Homo sapiens: one gene and its partners. The protein of the gene in region 2 purifies or fractionates together with the protein of the main gene of each other region. This does not show direct contact. Each region holds a gene or a part of one and is shown on either strand. Other genes may lie near its edges. The genes, in order: DENND10, STMN2, ASRGL1 and CHD5.

Region 1 (5,404 bases), on a different chromosome or scaffold from region 2:
GAATTACAGGCCACCTGAGTAAAAAGTTTTTATAACAAACCATGAATGAAAATTCAGCCTTAGAGATATGGTAGAGTTTTGGCCGGGCACGATGGCTCATGCTTGTAATCCCATCACTTTGGGAGGCCAAGGCGAGTGGATTACCTGAGGTCGGGACTTCGAGACCAGCCTGACCAACCTGGAGAAACCCCATCTCTACTAATAATACAAAAATTATCCGGGTGTGGTGGGGCATGCCTGTAATCCCAGCTACTCAGGAGGCTAAGGCAAGAGAATTGCTTGAACCCGGGAGGCAGAGGTTGCAGTCAGCCAAGATCACGCCACTGCACTCTAGCCTGGGCAACAGAGCAAAACTTGGTCTCAAAAAAAAAAAAAAAGACAAAGAAAGATGTTAGAGTTTCTCCCTATCTCCTCCCACACAAATGCTTATCAACTAAAATTACATTAAGTTTTTAACTAGTTGGAATAATTCTTTTTTTTTTTTTTGAGGCGGAGTCTCACCGTCACCCAGGCTAGAGTGTACTGGTGCTATCTTGGCTCCCAGGTTCAAACGATTCTTCTGCCTTGGCCTCCCAAGTAGCTGGGATTACAGGTGCCCACCACCATGCCCAGCTAATTTTTGTAGTTTTAGTAGAGACAGGGTTTCGCCATGTTAGCCAGGCTGGTCTTGAACTCCTGACCTCAGGTGATCTGCCCGCCTCGGCCTCCCAAAGTGCTGGGCGGAATAATTCTTTAAATGGAGTTTTGCTCTTATTGCCCAGGCTGGAGTGCAATGCAGTGATCTCAGCTCACCACAACCTCCATCTCCCAGATTCAAGCTATTCTCCTGCTTCAGCCTCCCGAGTGGCTGGGGTTACAGGCATGCACCACCACTCCTGGCTAATTTTGTATTTTTAGTAAAGATGGGGTTTTGGTTTCTCCACATTGGTCAGGCTGGTCTCGAACTCCCCACCTCAGATGATCTGCCTGCCTCGGCCCCCCAAAGTGCTGGGATTATAGGCGTGAGCCACCGTGCCCAGCCGAATAATTTTTAATAAATACATAGAAAAGGTTTGTCGAAAACAAAACCAGAGATGAAGAAAATAGTGAAATATTTCAAACCATGTTGCATACCAACTGTGTGAATTTTGTATTTAAAATTGTTTAGGCCAAGCATAATGGCTCATGCCTATAATCCTAACACTTTGGGAACCCAGGAGGATCGCCTGAGGCCAGAAGTTCCAGACCAACCTGGGCCACATAGTGAGACCGCATCTCTACAAAAAAAAAATTTTAATTAGCTGGACATGGTGGTGTGTGCCTATGGTCCCAGCTACTCAGGAAGCTAAGGTGGGAGGATCAAGTTAGCCCAAGATTCAGAGGTTGTCGTGAGCTATGCACCACTGCATTCCAGCCTAGTCAACAGAGAGAGACCCTGTCTCTAAAGACTACAAATAAAAAATTGTTATTGAAAACAGAATTACCATTCCACCCAGTAATCCCATTACTGGGTATCTGCCGAAAGGAAAAGAAATCATTATACTAAAAAAGACACTCACATTCTGTTTTTTTTTCTCTCTCTGAGACAGGGTCTAACTCTGTCACTTGGGCTGCAGTGCGGTGGCGCAATCTCAGCTCACTGCAACCTCCACCTCTGATCTCAGCTCACTGCAACTTCCACCTCCCGGGTTCAAGTGATTCTCCTGCCTCAGCCTCCTAAGTAGCTGAGATTACAGGTGTGCACCACCACGCCCAGTTAATTTTTTGCCTTTTTAGTGAAGACAGGGTCTCGCTATATTGGCCAGGCTGATCAACTCCCAGCCTCAATTGATCCACCTGCCTCAGCCTCCCAAAGTGCTAGGATTACAGGCATGAGCCACCACGCCTGGCCTCTTTTTTCAATTTCTTTTTTTGAGACGGGGTTGGGGGGGGTCTCACTCTGTCACCCATGCTGGAGTACAGTGGCATGATCTCAGTTCACTGCAACCTCTGCCTCCTGGGACCAAGCAATCCTCCCACCTACAGGCACACCACACCCGGCTAATTTTTGTATTTTTTGTAGAGACACGAGGGTTTTACCACATTGCCCAGGCTGGCTGCAAACCCCTTTTAAATGCACGTTAGTGTGAATAATTAAAAAACTGCTGAGTTCAAAATATGATCATATGTCATCTTTTTATTTGCTATTAGTAGATAAAGACAGTTTAACTTAGCCTTAGTTCAAAAGTACCTTCTGGAGAAACTAAGTTACTTAGGTTTTGTTTTGAAGCAGTTTGAAAATCACATTAGAAATAAATACAGTAATCCACCTGGACAACATGTCGGTATCCCATCTCCACAAAAAATACAAAAATTAATCGGGTGGTGGTGCACGCCTGAGGTCCCAGCTACTCGGAGGCCGAGGCGGGAGGATGGTTTGGGCCTGGGAGGTGGAGGCTGCAGAGAGCGATGATTGCGCTACTGCACTCCAGCCTGGATAAGAGGGAGACCCCGTCTAAAAAAAAAAAAAAGAAGAAAGACAAAGAAATAAAAACAGTAAGCGATTCCCACATAAACGCACTGCTTTGAGGCACTGAAAAATAATCAGCATATTTCTTCAGTTTTGCTAAAGCCTAAGCAATGTTATTGCGCACTTGGGGAATAGAAAGAGTTTAGGGGTGTGCAAAAATCTCGGGAAAATAAAACTTTTTCGAAGGGAACCAACGGGTTCCATCCCCTAAATACTGCACGAGGCTGCCCAAAGATCCCCGTGTGATATTTTTTAATTATGGAAGATAATTACATTCCTCAGAGCTAACCGAGATTCCACCACACAGGATTGTGTAGAAACTCCTGCTTTATTTATGCACAAGCTCGATCACATGATGCAGGAGCTCTCCACTGGTGGGGGTTGGGGGCTCTGGGATACACTGCGAGGGTCCCACTCCCGGCTCTGTACGGCCTATGGTGTGTCCGTGCACAATGACGGCCTGGGCCTCCATTTGCTCCTCCGTGAAGTGGGCGTCAGACGTTTCCCACGGCCCCTCGGTCCTTGGTGAGAGCTAAAAGGAGACAATGTGTGTACAACGCGCAGCACCCGGCCCAGCAGTCTCCAGCTGCCCGGTCCCACGATGGGGGCCGCCCGGGCGGGCAGTCACCCGTGGCTCCGAGGCAGCCGCCCGCCCCCGGCTCGGGGGAACCGGACCCTGCCTCCTCCCCGCCGCGCCGCGCCGCGCCGCCAGCCGGCTGCTCCCGCCCGGCCCGGCCCCGCCCGCGCAGCGCCCCTCGCAGCTGCCCAGCCTGGGAGCGCTCGACGTCCCGGCTCCGCCGGGCAACCCGGGGCGTGCAGGGGGAGCTCCACCCCGGAATCTTGGAGGTCCCCGGGCTCCCTCGGGCCGGGCAGGCCCCACAGGCGGCCGCGGGCGGGCGGGCGAGGGCGGCGGGCCGGGTCCCCTGCACCAAGGAGGCCGGGCTCCGCAGTCCCCAGTCCAGGCCCAACAGGGAGGGGGCCGCGCCCTCCTCATGCGGTCGGCGCCGGGGGCCGCGGGAGCCCGGGCTGCCCCGGGCCGAGGTGGAGCAGAGGCAGAACCAGGGTGCGGGCTTCCAGGCAGGGCGCCTACGTCCTCACCGATCAGCCCGACTCCAAGCATCAGCTGAGTGTCCGCCACCTCGGCCGCAGCCATCTTCCGCCGCCGCGGCGCGCAGCTCTGGCTGCCGCCTGCAGGACCGGCCTCGCACCCGAACCCCGCCCCGCCCGCCGTAGGGCCCGCCCCCATCACAGGCCCCGCCTCCCTCCCCGGCCCATCATAAGCCCCGCCTCCCTCCCCGGACCATCACAGGCCCCGCCTCCCGCTGTAGGACCCGCCTCCCTCCCGCCCCGCCCCATCACAGGACCATCAACCCCCCCCGTCGGCCCCGCCCCACCCGCAGGCCCACCTATTCCAGCCCCAGTCCTCCCTGCCAGGACCTGCTCAGTGCAGCTCCACTCGTCTTCTGCCCGTGGCCCTTCGCCCTTGGAAACCTCCTTGAGTCTCCGCAGCCTGCCTCAATTTCTCTAATCCAGCTGTTCATCCTTCTTCTTCTCAATCCACTCCAATCTTTCTTCCCGTCGTAGGCTTTCCTTGTTCTACCTCTGCCCTCTGGTCAAGCTCAAAAGAACAGGTCACCTTGTTCCTAAAAAGAGGCGTCCTGAGGATGGAGGAAGGGTCTCCATCCATTCCTTCATCCAGCCACCCCCAAAACAAAACAAAACAAAAATTGAGGGCCTAATAAGGCACTGGGGATACCTTATAGGGCTGAACAAGACAGAGCAGTCCACTGGGGAAGACAGACAATTGGCGAGTAGAATAAATAATCCAGGCCAGGTGAGGTGGCTCACGCCTCTGATCCCAACACGATGGGAGGCCAAGGCAGGAGCATCACTTGAGGTCAGGAGTTCGAGATCAGCCTTGGCAACATAGTGAGACCCATCTCTACAAAAAAAATTTAAAAATTAGCCAGGCATAGTGGCATGCACCTGTAGTCCCAGCTACTCTCAGGCTGAGGCAGGAAAATCATTTGAGCCCAGGATTTTGAGGCTGCAGTGAGCTGTGATCCTGCCACTCACTCCAGCCTGGGTGACAGAGTGAGACCCTGTCTCAAAAATAAATAAATAGATAAATAGATGACAGATAGATAGATAATAGTAAAAAAGCTCAGAATGATATGTGCCCTGGAGGCAACGATATGTGCCCTGGAGGCAGTGTGTTAGAGAGTGGAGGTGTGCTGCTCTAAAATGGGTGTCAAGAAAGGCTTCTCTGAGAAAGGGATATTTGAACTGAGATCTGAATGATAGTAACGACTCAGACATTGGAAGATTTGGCTCCAAGATTCCTCCTCTGGATCTACTGTCTGCCCCAACCCCAAGTCACACAGAGCTAATTAGGGAGGGTCCTTGGTGTCTGCAGGAATACAATCCCACCCTCATCTTTTTTTCTTTTTTCTTTTTTTTTTTTTTTTTTTGAGATGGAGTCTTGTTCAGTTGCCCGGCCTGGAGTGCAATAGCGCGATCTCGGCTCACTGCAACCTCCGCCTCTCGGTTTTAAGGGATTCTCCTGCCTCAGCCTCCTGCGTAGCTGGGATTACAGGCGTGAGCCACTGCGCCTGTTTTTTTCTTTTTTCTTTCTTTTTTTTTTGGAGACAGTTTCTCGCTATGTTGCCCAGGCTGCAATTTATACATTGGAGTATATTTAGGTGTGTATATGGCATTCCTGTTTCTCTCACTAAACTGAACCCCTGGAAGGCAGCACCCTGAACTACGTGCCCTTCTATTCTCTGGGCTTCCTGTTGTAGTATAACTGTTAATGTGTCTAGTTTTCACAGAAAAGAAGCAGGTGTTTAGAGGCTGAGGAGTGGGACACAGATGTGGAATCAGTTTGGAAGCCAACTAGAAACTTGCACTAGGTGG
Region 2 (4,852 bases):
GCAGCAATCGGTGAAAGATGGATTCCGAAGCCAGATGGCCTGGGCCCAAATTCTGGATCTGACTAACTGTGTGACCTTGAGTAAGATACTTCAACTTTCTGTGCCTCAGTTTCCATATCTGTAATAGAACCTACTTAGGATTATTAAGTGATTAACACAGTTAATATGTGGAAAGTTCTTAGAACAATGCCTTGCATGTTATATGTGCTATACAAGGGTTAAATCAATCAATAAAAGTTACTTCCCATAGAGAATCTGGAATTTATGAATACACCAGAAAAACAGTTGAAAGAAAGCACCATTGCGGGAAAATGTTTGAGTAAAGAAATAGGAAGACTTATTGGCTCGAGGCCCTCAAGTTTAGATTTTTGTCATCTCCAAATGAGGTTATACAGAGAGCCCTGCCCGACTGCCAGAATTAAACATTTAAAACATGAATTACTTTTGTAATGCTGTCTTAAGTGTGTCTTCCTTTCCTTCAATGTACAAGAAATTGCAAAAATGGAAAGTTTCCCAGCTTCTGAGAGACCCTGAAATGAACTGTTAACAACAACTGAATGGCTAACTTTGAGACTTAGTCCAACTTTGTGTTGAGTAACAGTATATTCTGCAAACCCTGAAGCTAGTTTTATTTGGGATCATGTTTTTAGTGCCCTATTTGGGAAATGTTATATTTTTTAATTTGAGATATTTCGTGTATTGTATCATTTTTGCAGCATAATATTTCCAGAAAGGTGGTAATGGCTGCATGGTCAGCCAGTCACTGCATGGGAGACCTGACTATGTCTTTGATGCTATTCCTTGAAGATCCTCTTTCTGATCTGTAGGTTGACTTCCTTAGAAAGTTAGAATTGAATAATGAAGATCCTTTATTGGCTTAGATAAGCAGAAGAAAACACTCTTTTCAAATATACAGTCATACTCAATAAATTCTTAAGAATTTTCTCACATGGTATTCAGGAAGAAATACTCTTAGAATAATTTGGTAAATAATAAATATAAGATATATTGAGACAGCAATCTTTTGTTTTAATTTCTTCAGTATTGCTATTCATAAATGATAGTAAGCTTGCATTATTGATTTATCATCCTTGTCAACTGTGCCACAAGCCGCATTCACATTCATTTCTTCTTAGGCAGGCTGTCTGTCTCTCTCTCTCGCACACACGCACACATGCTCACACAGAGAGCCAAATTCTTATTTTCTACCTTTCTCTCGAAGGTCTTCTGCCGAGTCCTGCAATATGAATATAATTTTAAAAATCCAATTAAGAGAGAGTGATGGGGCAGAACACATAATTCCCAGAGTAATAAAATCCCCAGGTATATGAGTTCGGAAGTAAAATATTTTGTAAAGATTACCATAGATTTAAAAATGTTAAGACATAATACCAGAGCTTACCAGGAGGGATACCTGTATATTACAAGTTAATATCCCTAAAACTGATGTGTTTAGTGGTCAGAATCAGCATCATCTGGGAGCTTGTTCGGAAGACAGAATGTCTGCCTCAAGCCAGATGTATTGAATCAGAATTTGCATTTTAATGAAAATCAAAGGTAATTCATATGCACATCAAAGTTTGAGGAACACAGTAATATGACACTATTAAATATTTTATAGCTGGATTAGAATTACATAAAATGTAATCAAAAAATAATTCTATCAATGCATATTTAAAAAATCCACTTTTGATGATACCCAAAATTAGTTTATACTTATATATTTCTTCTTACTTCGTTAAAATTAACATCGATTTTCTAATAAACAGAAAACCACTACAAGGAGATGCTCAATAATTGTTGAAATCTGATAAAACTAGATTGAAATCACATTGGATTAGATTTAAAAAGGTATCTTTAAATGGAAAAGAAAGACAGACTTAGAAGATGGGAAAAATAACAGCAGTCAGTTTTTGGTACACCTCCTCAGTATCACATACCTGCCTGTTTTACTCGCTAAGCTGCATGTTCTCTGCAGGTGGAGACTCTGATATTCAGATGTGCTCTGAACAGGGGGCACATTTCAATCGATGAAGAAGTAAACAATGATTTTCTTTAATTTATTCCTTTATTTTTAAGCATTAAAATATTCGGCTGCTAAATAACTTTGCTATTACTACTGACATTTTTCTACTATTTATCCACTACAAAATCTCAGAAGTAACATAAATGGTATTATAATAACAATGTAATAAAACTGAGAAGTAAAACCATCAGGGAATAATTAACCAGGGCGTGTATCTACTTTCAGATTATGACCACTCATTTCATCCTGTCTCCTTGAAAATTGTACAAGCTCTGTTCATCCACTAGGGTAAAGCATGGCATCAGCTTATTGAATAAACACTTGAATGTTCCTGGTAAAAGAAAAGATTTTATTAAACAGTTAATATTTGGAACTAGGTTTACATCAATCATCTGCTTTTTTAGAGAACATGATTGCCCTCTAGTGTGGTGAAAAGTTAATGCAGACACCGAGGTTTTCCAATGGACAGAACCAGTCTAGGTTCTGAAAACATCTGGGTCACTGGCTAGTTCAGTATTTTCTTTTTTAATGAAAAAATTCTAGCATTTTTTCATATAAGGTCACAGATCTTGTGACAACAGGATAATATGTGTTTTTCTTCCCACGACCAAAAAAGAAACTGGTGTGAGCTGGGGTTCGCTATCAGCAGCTCCCAGTGGCCACGCCCAGGCCTAGGTTTGTGCTCTGAGCTTCCTCCTGCTCGGAGGCCAGCTTTTTTCAGCCTCCTGTGAGCAATGAGCTACCAAGGTAGCCTGAGCATGTGATCAGTCACACTCAGTTGAAGTAAAAAATAATGGTGATTGATAAATCCGGAATTTTCCTAAAGATGGCCTGAATTTATCAATGACAAAGTCTTCCATTCAATATGTATCGATTCATCCTCCACTTCATTGTTAGTTGTACAGATTTAACTTTAAAATTCTGTTTGATAGCTACTGCTAGGTATTCACAGAACTAAGTAACTATTTGATCTTAAATTATAGGGAAGAAAACTATTTTATTATATGAATCAGCCTTATGGCACTCTGAAAGGACATTTCCTGAATCTGAGTAAATTGTAGCCTCTTGTAGCATTTTTTAATCACTGAGAATGAGCTATTTGATGGAAGTCATATTGTGCCAAATGATTAAATGCTTATTCCACCATCTATCCATTAGTAATTTGAAAAATAAAAACCCAAAGTAATTAAAACTGCTTTCAATGCAACAAATAAAAGTTTGCTAAAAATATTAATGAGGTAATAGCTGTAACAATAAAAACACTCATTTCTCTTTTAGAATAGAATAATTTACTACAAATCTGTAAGTCACATTATTGTAAAAAAAAACCATTGTGAATTTTGACTAAAGTTGTAGATTTTAATAGCACAAATGTCCAATCTTAATTATCATTTTAAAATATACTTTCTCTCAGAGAATTTTAACGTGCATAGACAAACACCACAAGGTCTATTAATTTATCCTATCATTCTAGCTACCTGCGACGTGTTACACTGGGACAGAGAGTGTTTATTGCAGGCTCAGCTTACTCACCTGGTATAAACTAAATACATGAGATTAATTGATAAACTACTGCCATTTCTTTCAGTTTTATCCTGAAATTCTGACCAAATCCTCAGCTTTTCATTTCTAGTTACTTATATATCCATTCAGAAGGTGCCCACTTCATTAGAAAAGATAATGGGGAATATTATATGCACCTCTTACAATCATGCTGAATACATAATTGTTTAATGAATCAGGAAAAAAGCACTCGCCCTGATAATTAATTATCTTTGAAATTGGAATTAATTTCAAAATCTATTATTTTAATACTGCAGAAGTAGTGTTTTTTTCATGATTTGCAAATGCAGTTAAATTATGGCCAGAAAGGATGCTTGCGTTTGTCATATTTGGGGTGGGATTTTTATTTGGATGGCGGCTACCATTTCACGATCCATGTATCTGTGTAGGATTGAGGCTGTATCAAGAATCAGCAGTTGGAAGAACAGTTTCAGGGGAAAAAACTTAAAATTTTGTGCATAAACTATATTTATATATTTATAGATATAACCTTATGTTGAAGATCATCTCAATTATATATGTGTATTCTCACCCATTGCAGCCACAAACAATTCTTTGCAGAGAATTTTCCAGCAATCGTTGGCACACAAACCCTGCTCTTAGCAAGCACTTGCACATGTATCTTAGCCACATGAACATACATAATCCTGGCAGGAAGCAAAAATATATTTGCTTTATAACTTAAAATGAACAACTGGAGACAAATTTACCTTTTTGTGGGGGAAAGGGATGAGGGCAATTAGGAGGAAGCAAAGCGAACGCAACAAGGGTTAATCCTTAACCAAGAGCAATCCACGTCCCTTTTGAACAAATGAGAACAAACAAGGCTACTGAATCATTAAATAATAACAACGATTTGAAATGATAATAATACTGATGATGACGATGAGTTTGCAGCCACTAGCCTGCAGCGGAAACCTTTCTGAGGGGTGCAGAAAGCGAGGCGAGATCGCCCCCACCACCCATTCTCAGAACCTTTCTGGACGTGCGAGTGAACTGCGAATTGTGGAAAGCGGGGGTAGCTCAGGACACTGCGCAGAAACCGGTCTCCCCGGCTGCACCGCGGGGGCGAGCGCCCAACTCCGGGGAGGGGAGCGCAGGGCGCGGCGCGGGGCTCTGCAGGGCTGGCTGCGCTCCACACACCCAGTCGCCACGTGCGCCCCCACCCGGCCAGCGGTAGGCGGCTCTGGGCCTCAGCTGGGAGGGGTGGGGCCGAGCCGCGCCCCGCTGGAGGAGCGAGGGTCTCCCTTAGAGAAGCCCCTC
Region 3 (4,852 bases), on a different chromosome or scaffold from region 2:
GGTATTCTCATCGTGCACCTGAGACTTGTTATAGGGTGAAATATAAGTTTAGTCAAGATATTCCATCTTTGGGCATATCTAGAAGACACTGCATTTATTCCCTCTATTGTTCCAAAGCACTACCATTAGTGGCACAGTGGAGGTCATGCATCCTAGAAACAAATTTCAAATGATGGGCTGTATATGTCACATAGTATGCTTCTGGATTCTTAGCCAAGCTTCTTGCTTGTACATCTCTCATTTACCAACCACATTTGCTCCATTATCACAGGCTTGCCTTCAACAATCCTTGAAATTAGTGTCTAAAACAGAAAGTTTTCTTTCAATTCTTCACTTAATTCAAAAATCACACTTTAAGGAGGAGATATAAAGCCAATGAAACATGGAATGATTTAGGCTTGTTTTTCTTCAAGCAGTAATGGTCCACTCATGGTACTATCAGTACCACGGTACACTCTAGTTGAACTGAGTAACTATTTTATTAAAAAACTTTGGGCTGGGCACAGTGGCTCACGCCTGTAATCCCAGTACTTTAGGGGGCTGAGGCAGGCAGATCACGAGGTCAGGAGTTTGAGACCAGCCTGGCCAACATGGTGAAACCCCCTCTCTACTAAAAATACAAAAATTAGCCGGGCATGGTGGCATGCGCCTGTAGTCCCAGCTACTCGGGAGGCTGAGGCAGAAGAATCTCTTGAACCTGGGAGGCGGAGGTTGCAGTGAGCCGAGATTGTACCACTGCACTCCAGCCTGTTGACAGAACAAGATTCTGTCTCAAAAAAAAAAAAAAAAAAAAAAAAATTGGCCAGGTTTGGTGGCTCACCAAAGCACTTTGGAAGGCCAAGCAGGAGGGAAGATCCCTTGAGCTCAGGAGCTTAAGACGAGCCTGGGCAACATGGCAAGACCCCGTCTCTACTAAAAATAAAATTAGCCAGGCATGGTGCATGCCTGTAGTCCCACCTACTTGGGAGGCTGAGATGGGAGGATCACTTGAGCCTGGGAGATTGAGGCTGCAGTGAGCTACGACTGTAACACTGCACTCGAGCCTGGGTGACAAAGTAAGACCTTGTCTCAAAAAAACAAAAAAACAAAACCCCACAAAACCAAAAAATTTATTGACAAAAAAATTTTTACAAATGATTTCATGTCTCACTTTATTCTCCATTAAACTCATAATCTGTTGGAATTCTCTATCCTAGGTAATGATCATTACTTTCATTATTTTTGTCTTAATTATATGTTTGGCATTTTACCAAATTTTGAAATCTCTTTTACTGAAACCTAGAAAATTTCCATTGTTTTTTGCACACACTGTACTGACGGTGTCATGAAAAGAATGATTAGGCTTGGCTAAATATTGGATACATTGTATTATTCTTTCAAGAACATTACATCAGTATTTTATATTGTTTTCTGTTTCCGGTAAAATCAATTGTTTATTCGGCCTCTTTCCCTCAATTCCTGTAACAGGGTGTGTGTTTTATTGTGTGTGATTCTTCATGATTAGCAATTAAATCTTCCGTTAGTAAAGAAGGAGGTTGCCATGATTTCATCTGACTTGTTCAAACTGTGGATTTGGTGAGAATAATTTTCTTACTAATTTTAATTGTTTTGATTAATAAGTAGATCTTAATTGAACAAAACCTTTGTAATGTCTTGTTTGTGAATTTTATGTGGGTCACCCTGGAAGAAGACTGCTTGCTTTTACTGCTTCCAGTGTTGGAAAATGCAAGCAGCCTGCTTCTTTGAAGATTTTTACTTTCTTTTTCATTTTTTCTTTTGTGAGCTCCACTTTATAGCATTCTTTTTCTACCAAAATCTTGACTTATACTCATTTTCAATAATCTAAGGGATTAAAAGTGAAATATAATTATATCCAAAGTATAAAAAAATGAGAATGTATTTTCATAAAAAAATAAAGAGCTAATCTAAAAAAATTAAAAAAAAAAAAAGTTGGCCGGGCATGGTGGCTCATACCTATAATCCTAGCACTTTGGGAGGCCGAGGTGGGCGGATCACCTGAGGTCAGGAGTTCGAGACCAGTCTGGCCAACATGGTGAAACCCTCTCTCTACTAAAAATACAAAAATTACCCAGGCGTGGTGGCGCACACCTGTAATACCAGCTACTCAGGAGGCTGAGGAGAACTGCTAGAACCTGGGAGGCAGAGGTTGCAGTAAGCCGAGATCGTGCCACTGCACTCCAGCCTGGGCAACACAGTGTGACTCTGTCTCAAAAACAAACAAAACCAAAAAAAAAAAAAAGAAAAGCAAAAAACAAAAAAAAGAAGTAATTTGCAGATATAATTTCCAAAAAGTTACAAAAGTAATTGTAAAATATACAAAATTTTTATTAATGTTAAAGTTAAAATATGAATTATAATTAGTAAATACAATACATAAAGGCTAAAATTACATGAAAGCTAAAAATTTTACCACTGTATTTTTGAAATTAACTGCATCTTTTAAATATTTTCATCAAAATAAAACCATTCATAATTCTAACAGTCAACATCCATGTAGTTGCTAACACGGAGAGTTAGCAACTACAGGAGCTTTTTGTTTTTCTCTGTTATCAGTTTTTCTCACACAGGTTCTGTCTAGACCTGTGCTGTGCACTTACAGAAGCTGCAGCTCCATGTGGCTACTGAGTGGCTGCTAGCTAAATGTGGCTGTCCTCAGTGAGATGTACTGTAAGTGTAAAACACACCAGATTTTGAAGATTTAGTACAAAAAAAGAGCAAGACATCTTATAATTTCTTATATGCATTACATGTTGAAATATTTTGGATATATTTGGTTAAATAAAATATATTATTAATTTCACTTTTTTTTTTTGAGACAAAGTTTCGCTCTTGTTGCCCAGGCTGGAGTGCAATGGCGCGATCTTGGCTCACTGCAACCTCTGCCTCCTGGGTTCAAGCGATTCTCCTGCCTCAGTCTTCTGAGTAGCTGGGATTACAGGTGCCCACCACCATGCCTGGCTGATTTTTGTATTTTTAGTAGAGACAGGGCTCACCATGTTAGTCAGGCTGGTCTTGAACTCCTGACCTCAGATGTGATCCACTGTGGATGTGGCCACTAGAAAATGTCAAATTACATTTGTGGCTCTCACAGTATTTCTACTGGATGGTGCTGTTCTAGACCTACCCATACACAAACTGAAGAGTAACAGTCCCCATGTGCAACTTCTACAGACACTACACTAACTCATGAAAATCTTCAGAGTCCAGAGTGCTAACCATTACACCACAGAACCCTCTCTGTAACAATCTTCAGAACTAAATATTCCAACATGCAGAGAGGCAAGAAAATGGATACCTAGCACTACAGGGAAATAATACTTTGTGATGCAAGAATCTATTTCATCAGTTAATTAATTTGTCTTTTTCTCTTACCTAAGTCCTTCTGCTGTTCGAATCTTCCCCACACTCCAAAGCAATGTCCATTTCTGATGTCAACAGTGGCACTACCCACAAACTTTGAACTCAGGTGCCTTTTGCTTCCAAGACATAGAGCAACGGATGTGGAGATTTCCTTGATGGCTGAGTGGTGTTAGTCACAAGAGCAATGATTGGGGTTACTGGTCAAGCTGTGCCAATGTTGAGTGACAAAGGGGTCCTATGTGTTCTGGAATAAGTCAATTGTTTTGTGTGTTTATGGTATGAGGGTCCTTTAAAGTGCAGGGACCATGGCAGGAACCCCTCTTGCTTACGTGTAAAGCAGCAGTGGCTGGTGGAGAGGTGTTAATAAATTTCTGGAAAGCAATGTGGTGACATCTTTCAAAATGAACGTAAATCATGCATAAGGCAACCCCACTGCTATGACTCTAGCCCACAGACACAAAAGCACACTCAGTCAGGCTGTCAACAGCTGCCAACATAAGGTCAATCTTTTTTTTTTTTTTTTTTTTCTGAGACGGAGTCTCGCTTTGTTGCCCAGGCTAGAGTGCAATGGTGGGATCTTGGCTCACCGCAACCTCTGCCTCCCGGGTTCAAGCGATTCTCCTGCCTCAGCCTCCCGAGTAGCTGGGATTACAGGCACGCACCATCATGCCTGGCTAATTTTTTGTATCTTTAGTAGAGACGGGGTTTCACCGTGTTGCCTAGGCTGGTCTTGAACTCCTGAGCTGAGGCAATCCGTCCGCCTCGGCCTCCCAAAGTGCTGGGATTACAGGTGTGAGCCACCGCACCCGGCCAAGGCCAATCTTTTAAAACAGACTCTGAACCTGAGGAACACATCAGAATTACCTGGGAACCCTTTTTATAATATACCTGTCTGGCTTCTCCACCTCAGATCTATTTAAATCTGATTCTTCTGGCGGGGTGGCCTAAACATGCATATTTTGAAAAAGCTCCCTAGGTGATACAAGGTATACCTCTGATTAAATATCATTACTCTAAAAAGTATGCGGAGTCAATAGATTTAATTCCATTATAAACTCCCAGGCCATATTCACATTTTACTTTCAAATTTTGCTTTAAATAAGCAGTCCTTTATTTAGGATTTCAAAATCTGTAACAGAAAACTGTAATTCAGAAAATGACTAATTTGAATTTCTAAGAGTTGTGCTGATTTCTCTAAACTATGAAAGAGTACTTAAGTTTATAAGGTACACTAGATCACAGATAACCTGTTTAGTCTATTTAAGATAAACTGATCAAGAAGAATCCAGATAACTGATACATTAATACGTGAAATTCTTCTACTAAATCATGTCAGAGGCTGGGCTCGGTGGCTCATGCCTGTAATCCCTGCACTTTGGGAGGCCGAGGCAGGTGGATCACCTGACGTCAGGAGTTTGAGACCAGCCTGGCCAACACGGCGAAACCCCGCCTCTACTAAAAAAAAAAAAAA
Region 4 (4,852 bases), on a different chromosome or scaffold from region 2:
CCCAGGTGGAGGCCCCTGCCTTCTCTGTGCCCCCTTCCTACCTTCTCCTCCTCCCATGCTTTTCTTCCCCCATCCCAGAATCCTCCACCCCCACCCCTCTCTGTCCTGGGCTCATACTCCCACGCTCCACTCGCCCAGGTGCTGGGCTTCAATGCCCGACAGCGGAAGGCCTTTCTGAACGCCATCATGCGCTGGGGCATGCCCCCGCAGGACGCCTTCAACTCCCACTGGCTGGTGCGGGACCTTCGAGGGAAGAGCGAGAAGGAGTTTAGGTAAAGGGGCTAGGTGGTGGCCCAGGGTGTGACCACCTGCCCCTGAGTAGGGCAGGGTCCTGCGGGTGAGCCCCACAGAGGGCAGCATTTGCTTCCGCCAGGATGAGGCCGTCTGGAAAGTTCACTGCCACTTGGACTTTGGGTGGCTAGAGTCCTGGTGCCGGGCAGGGCTGATTTGCAAACACTGACCATCCGCCCCTGCCCAAACCAGCTGGTGTTATGGCAGCGAGGAAGATCCCGGTCACCCAGGGCTGTCCTAGGAGGTCCCCTCGCCAGGGAGGCCCTCTCTGTCCTTTCCCGGGCCTGGCCCAGGCCTGACTAGGAGGTGGGCGATGGTTGAAGATCAGCCAGGAGTTCCCCTGGGGTCCTGCCAGCCCTCTCAGAGGGTTCTTGCCGGCCCCCCACTCCCTGAGCCCCAGTCCCCCCCCCCCACCCCAGAGCCTATGTGTCCCTCTTCATGCGGCACCTGTGTGAGCCGGGGGCGGATGGTGCAGAGACCTTCGCAGACGGCGTGCCCCGGGAGGGCCTCTCCAGGCAGCACGTGCTGACCCGCATCGGGGTCATGTCACTAGTTAGGAAGAAGGTGGGTGAGTAACTCTCTGTAGGGCCCTTCCTGGTGGCTGCCTGGGCTCCTGGTGCTGTCCCTTGTGGGTCAGTGGTCAGAGAACAAGTGCCTGGTTCAGGCCACACAGCTGCCCAGGGTCCGAGTCACTCCAGAGGGACTGACCTGGAAAGCCTTTCTGGGTGAGGGGCCTGTGGGGTGGAGGCCAGGATGGTGGGTTACATACAGTTGGAGGACACACAGAGGGTGGGAGGGTGGGCAGGGGAGCTTGTGGTCAGGAGGGGCCTGGCTTGGCCAGCCTTGGGCGGAGGTAGCAGCTACCCCAAGCCTGTGACACTTTCAGCCCCCCTGGCTGCCCTGAGGCCCTTAGGGCTGAGTTGCCACCACTGCCCTCCCTCTTTCCCTTCCACCTTCCCTCCCACCACCCCAGGTTCAGGAGTTTGAGCATGTCAACGGGAAGTACAGCACCCCAGACTTGATCCCTGAGGGGCCCGAGGGGAAGAAGTCGGGCGAGGTGATCTCCTCGGACCCCAACACACCAGTGCCCGCCAGCCCTGCCCACCTCCTGCCAGCCCCGCTGGGCCTGCCAGGTCTGTGGGCTGGGCGGGCCGGGGAGGGCACTGGGGTCATGGAAAGTGGCAAGGTCACAGAAACCCCTAGTCTAACCCACAATCCCACAGAAGACGGCCTCTCCTTCCCCCAAAGCCTCTGTTTGCTGAAATGTCACTCTACAGAGAGTTTTCCATTTTAATGACAGTTACGAGATATAATTTATATACATACTGCAAAATTCACTCTTTTAAAAAACTGGCTGGGCGCGGTGGCTCACACCTGTTAATCACAGCACTTTAGGAGGCTGAGGCGGCAGGATCACCTGAGCTCAGGAGTTTGAGACCAACCTGGCCAACATGGTGAAACCCCGTCTCTACTAAAAATACAAAAGATTAGCCGGGCATGGTGGCACGTGCCTGTAATCCCGGCTGCTCGGGAGGCTGAGGCAGGAGAATCGCTTGAACCTGGGAAGCGGAGGTTGCAGTGAGCCAAGATCACACCACTGCACTCCAGCCTGGGGGGACAAAGCAAGACTCCATCTCAAAAAAAAAAAAGTACTATTCAGTGATTTCTAGTATATTCGTAGGGTGTACAACCATCGCCACTGCCTAAGGCCGGAATATTTTCATTCCCCCTGAAAAAGAAACCCTGTACCCATTAGCAGCCACTCCTTATCCCCCCACCCCAGGCCTGGGCAGCCACTAACCTGCTTCCTGTTTCTGGATTTCGCAATGCTGGATGGTTCGTGTATATGGCACTGCACAGTGCGTGGGCCTTTCTGTCTGGCTTCTGTCACTCAGCCTGGGGGTTCCAGGTTCATCCACATTGCAGCGTGCATCAGTGCTTCAGTCATTCTGTCATTCTGCCTTATGGCTGATAATGTTTTCTTTTTCTTTCTTTCTTCCTTTTTTTTTTTTTGAGATGGAGTTTCGCTCTTGTTGCCCAGGCTGGAGTGCGATGGAGTGATCTCGGCTCACTGCAACCTCCGCCTCCCAGGTTCAAGCGATCCTGCCTCAGCTTCCCGAGTAGCTGGGATTACAGGTGCCCGCCACCACACCTGGCTGATTTTTGTATTTTTAGTAGAGACGGGGTTTCGCCATGTTGGCCAGGCTGGTCTTGAATTCCTGACCTCAGGTGATCCACCCTCCTCGGCCTCCCAACGTGCTGGGATTATAGGCGTGAGCCACCGCGCCTGGCCGATAACGTTTTCTTGTATGAATTTACTGCATTTTGCTTATCCATTGCGCTGTCGATAGATTTTGGATTGTTTCTACTTTTTGGCTGCTGTGAATAATGCTGCTGTGTTTTATGTTTTTGCGTGGACATACGTTTTGAGTTCTTTTGGGCAGATATCTAGGAATGGAATTGCTGGGCCGTGTGATAACCCTGTTTTCCCTTTTGAGAAACTACTAGACTGTTTTCCAAAGCAGCTGTACCATTTTACATTCCTGCTAGTATTGTGCGGGAGTCCCAGGTTCTCCACGTCTTCAGCAGTAATTGTTCTCTGCCTTCATGGTTCTAGCTGTCCTGGGAGCATGAGGTGGTGTCTCACTGTGGTTCTGATTGGCATTTCCCTGATGCCAAGGACGCTGAATGTTGTTCGGTGTGCGTATTGGCTGTTTGTAGACTTGTAGAAATGTCTTTTCAGATTCTTTGCACACTTAATTGGGTCATTTGTGCCCGTGTCACTTTGGTGATCTAGGTATTTATTTGGGTGAAGCAAATACCTGTTAAGTACTTGGTCCGTCGGTTGGGCCTCACAGGCCTGGGGCGGACATAGCTATCCCATGGTGATGGGTGAGGCCAGGCCCTGAGAAGCTGCACCTCCAAGCACAAGGGAGCCCTTGGAGGTGGACACATCTTGGTTTGCTTCTTGGCTTTGGCCTGAACTCTGTCTAACCTTGGGCAAGTCACCTAACCTCTGTGGGCCTCCGCTTTCCCGGCTGTGCCCACCTCCCGGGGCTTCTCAGAGCTGTGTAAGTGACCAGCACTTTGCAGTGTGTTGGCGGCTGGCTTGGCAGGGAGGAAATTCACCCCCTGTCCAGAGGCACACACCAGCCAGCCCGCCCGAAAGCTGGGACCAGAGCGGGTGTCGTGGCTCCCAATCTGGGCCTCCATCTGCCTCACTTCCCTGCCTCCAGATGAGCAGCCACGGCTGTGTGCGGCCCCGTCCTGACAGCCCCTCACTTTGGTCTTACTGGGTTCAAGGTCCTCCAAGCACTCCTGAGTCAAAGGCCTGGCCTGGCCTCTCTGACTTAGCCGGGGATCCTGCTTGTCTCTCCTGGAGGTGCTTGGCTGCAGTGGAGCCTCCCGAAGGCCAAGCCCCCATCTCTCCTCTCTGCCACCCCACTCCCTGCCCTACTCCTTCCCGTCTGAGCCCACCTGTCTCAGCTCTTTCCCTTGATCTTTCAGACAAAATGGAAGCCCAGCTGGGCTACATGGATGAGAAAGACCCCGGGGCACAGAAGCCAAGGCAGCCCCTGGAAGTCCAGGTGTGGAACTTGCTGGCGTCTGGGCCTGTGGTGTGTGTGGGGTGGAGGTTGGGTCTGGGGACCTTCTCAGGCCCTGTACAGCGAGGTGGAACCCAGGCCTCCTGGCTCCCTTTTCGGGGCTCTGAATCGGCGGGGAGCAGGCTAGGAGCAAGCGACGGGAGCCAGGAGACTGGGTTCCCAGCCCAGCGCACGTTCCCCGCCCTCCGTTCCTGGTGAGGCCCCAGGCCTTGTAGTTCTCCTGGCTTTTCCTCTGCAGGCCCTTCCAGCCGCCTTGGATAGAGTGGAGAGTGAGGACAAGCACGAGAGCCCAGCCAGCAAGGAGAGAGCCCGAGAGGAGCGGCCAGAGGAGACGGAGAAGGCCCCGCCCTCCCCGGAGCAGCTGCCGAGAGGTTGGGGCTTCTTGCAGGCCACCCACCCCAGTGCCATGTCTGGCCTCAGCAGGCCTGGGTTCAGAGAAGGGCAGGTGGCTGTACTTCCGCTCATTTCTCCCTGGCAGAGAGGTAGACTCCAACCCTCTGCAGGCCCCCTGGTGAGGGGAGGCCAGGAGCTCAGGCCTCTATACATGGACTTAATGGACTTTTTTTTTTTTTGGAGAAAGGGTTTCGCTCTGTCACCCAGGCTGGAATGCAGTGGTACCATCTCGGATCACTGCAACATCCGCCTCCCGGGTTCAAGTGATTCTTGTGCCTCAGTCTCCCTAGTAGCTGGGACTACAGGCGTGTACCACCACACCCAGCTAATTTTTGTATTTTTAGTAGAGACGAGATTTCATCATGTTGGTCAGGATGGTCTCGATCTCTTGTAGCTGGGACTATAGGTGCATACCACCACACCCAACTAATTTTTGTATTTTTAATAGAGACTGGGTTTTGCCATGTTGGCCAGGCTGGTCTCGATCTCTTGACCTCGTGATCCGCCTGCCTCGGCCTCCCAAAGTGCTGGGATTACAGGTGTGAGCCACTGCGCCCGGCCAT

Evidence for each region.
Region 1: the proteins of STMN2 (region 2) and DENND10 purify together in Homo sapiens (affinity purification with mass spectrometry; one large-scale study listed by BioGRID and IntAct). This does not show direct contact.
Region 3: the proteins of STMN2 (region 2) and ASRGL1 purify together in Homo sapiens (affinity purification with mass spectrometry; one large-scale study listed by BioGRID and IntAct). This does not show direct contact.
Region 4: the proteins of STMN2 (region 2) and CHD5 purify together in Homo sapiens (co-immunoprecipitation; one large-scale study listed by IntAct). This does not show direct contact.

The regions. Positions count from the first base shown.
Region 1 is NC_000010.11:119,102,380-119,107,783, reverse strand, and holds the start of DENND10 (DENN domain-containing protein 10), read right to left. Parts: upstream 3,672-5,404; 5' UTR 3,642-3,671; coding exon 3,587-3,641; intron 3,020-3,586; exon of another isoform or gene 2,762-3,019; intron 2,474-2,761; exon of another isoform or gene 2,300-2,473; coding exon of another isoform or gene 2,289-2,299; intron 1-2,288. UniProt on the Homo sapiens protein: Guanine nucleotide exchange factor (GEF) regulating homeostasis of late endocytic pathway, including endosomal positioning, maturation and secretion, possibly through activating Rab proteins such as RAB27A and RAB27B.
Region 2 is NC_000008.11:79,613,207-79,618,058, reverse strand, and holds part of STMN2 (stathmin-2), read right to left. Parts: intron 1-4,852. UniProt on the Homo sapiens protein: Regulator of microtubule stability. When phosphorylated by MAPK8, stabilizes microtubules and consequently controls neurite length in cortical neurons.
Region 3 is NC_000011.10:62,357,428-62,362,279, reverse strand, and holds part of ASRGL1 (isoaspartyl peptidase/L-asparaginase), read right to left. Parts: intron 3,764-4,852; exon of another isoform or gene 3,399-3,763; intron 1,576-3,398; exon of another isoform or gene 1,349-1,575; intron 1-1,348. UniProt on the Homo sapiens protein: Has both L-asparaginase and beta-aspartyl peptidase activity. May be involved in the production of L-aspartate, which can act as an excitatory neurotransmitter in some brain regions. Is highly active with L-Asp beta-methyl ester.
Region 4 is NC_000001.11:6,120,520-6,125,371, reverse strand, and holds part of CHD5 (chromodomain-helicase-DNA-binding protein 5), read left to right. Parts: intron 1-138; coding exon 139-272; intron 273-710; coding exon 711-855; intron 856-1,264; coding exon 1,265-1,424; intron 1,425-3,798; coding exon 3,799-3,878; intron 3,879-4,134; coding exon 4,135-4,267; intron 4,268-4,852. UniProt on the Homo sapiens protein: ATP-dependent chromatin-remodeling factor that binds DNA through histones and regulates gene transcription. May specifically recognize and bind trimethylated 'Lys-27' (H3K27me3) and non-methylated 'Lys-4' of histone H3.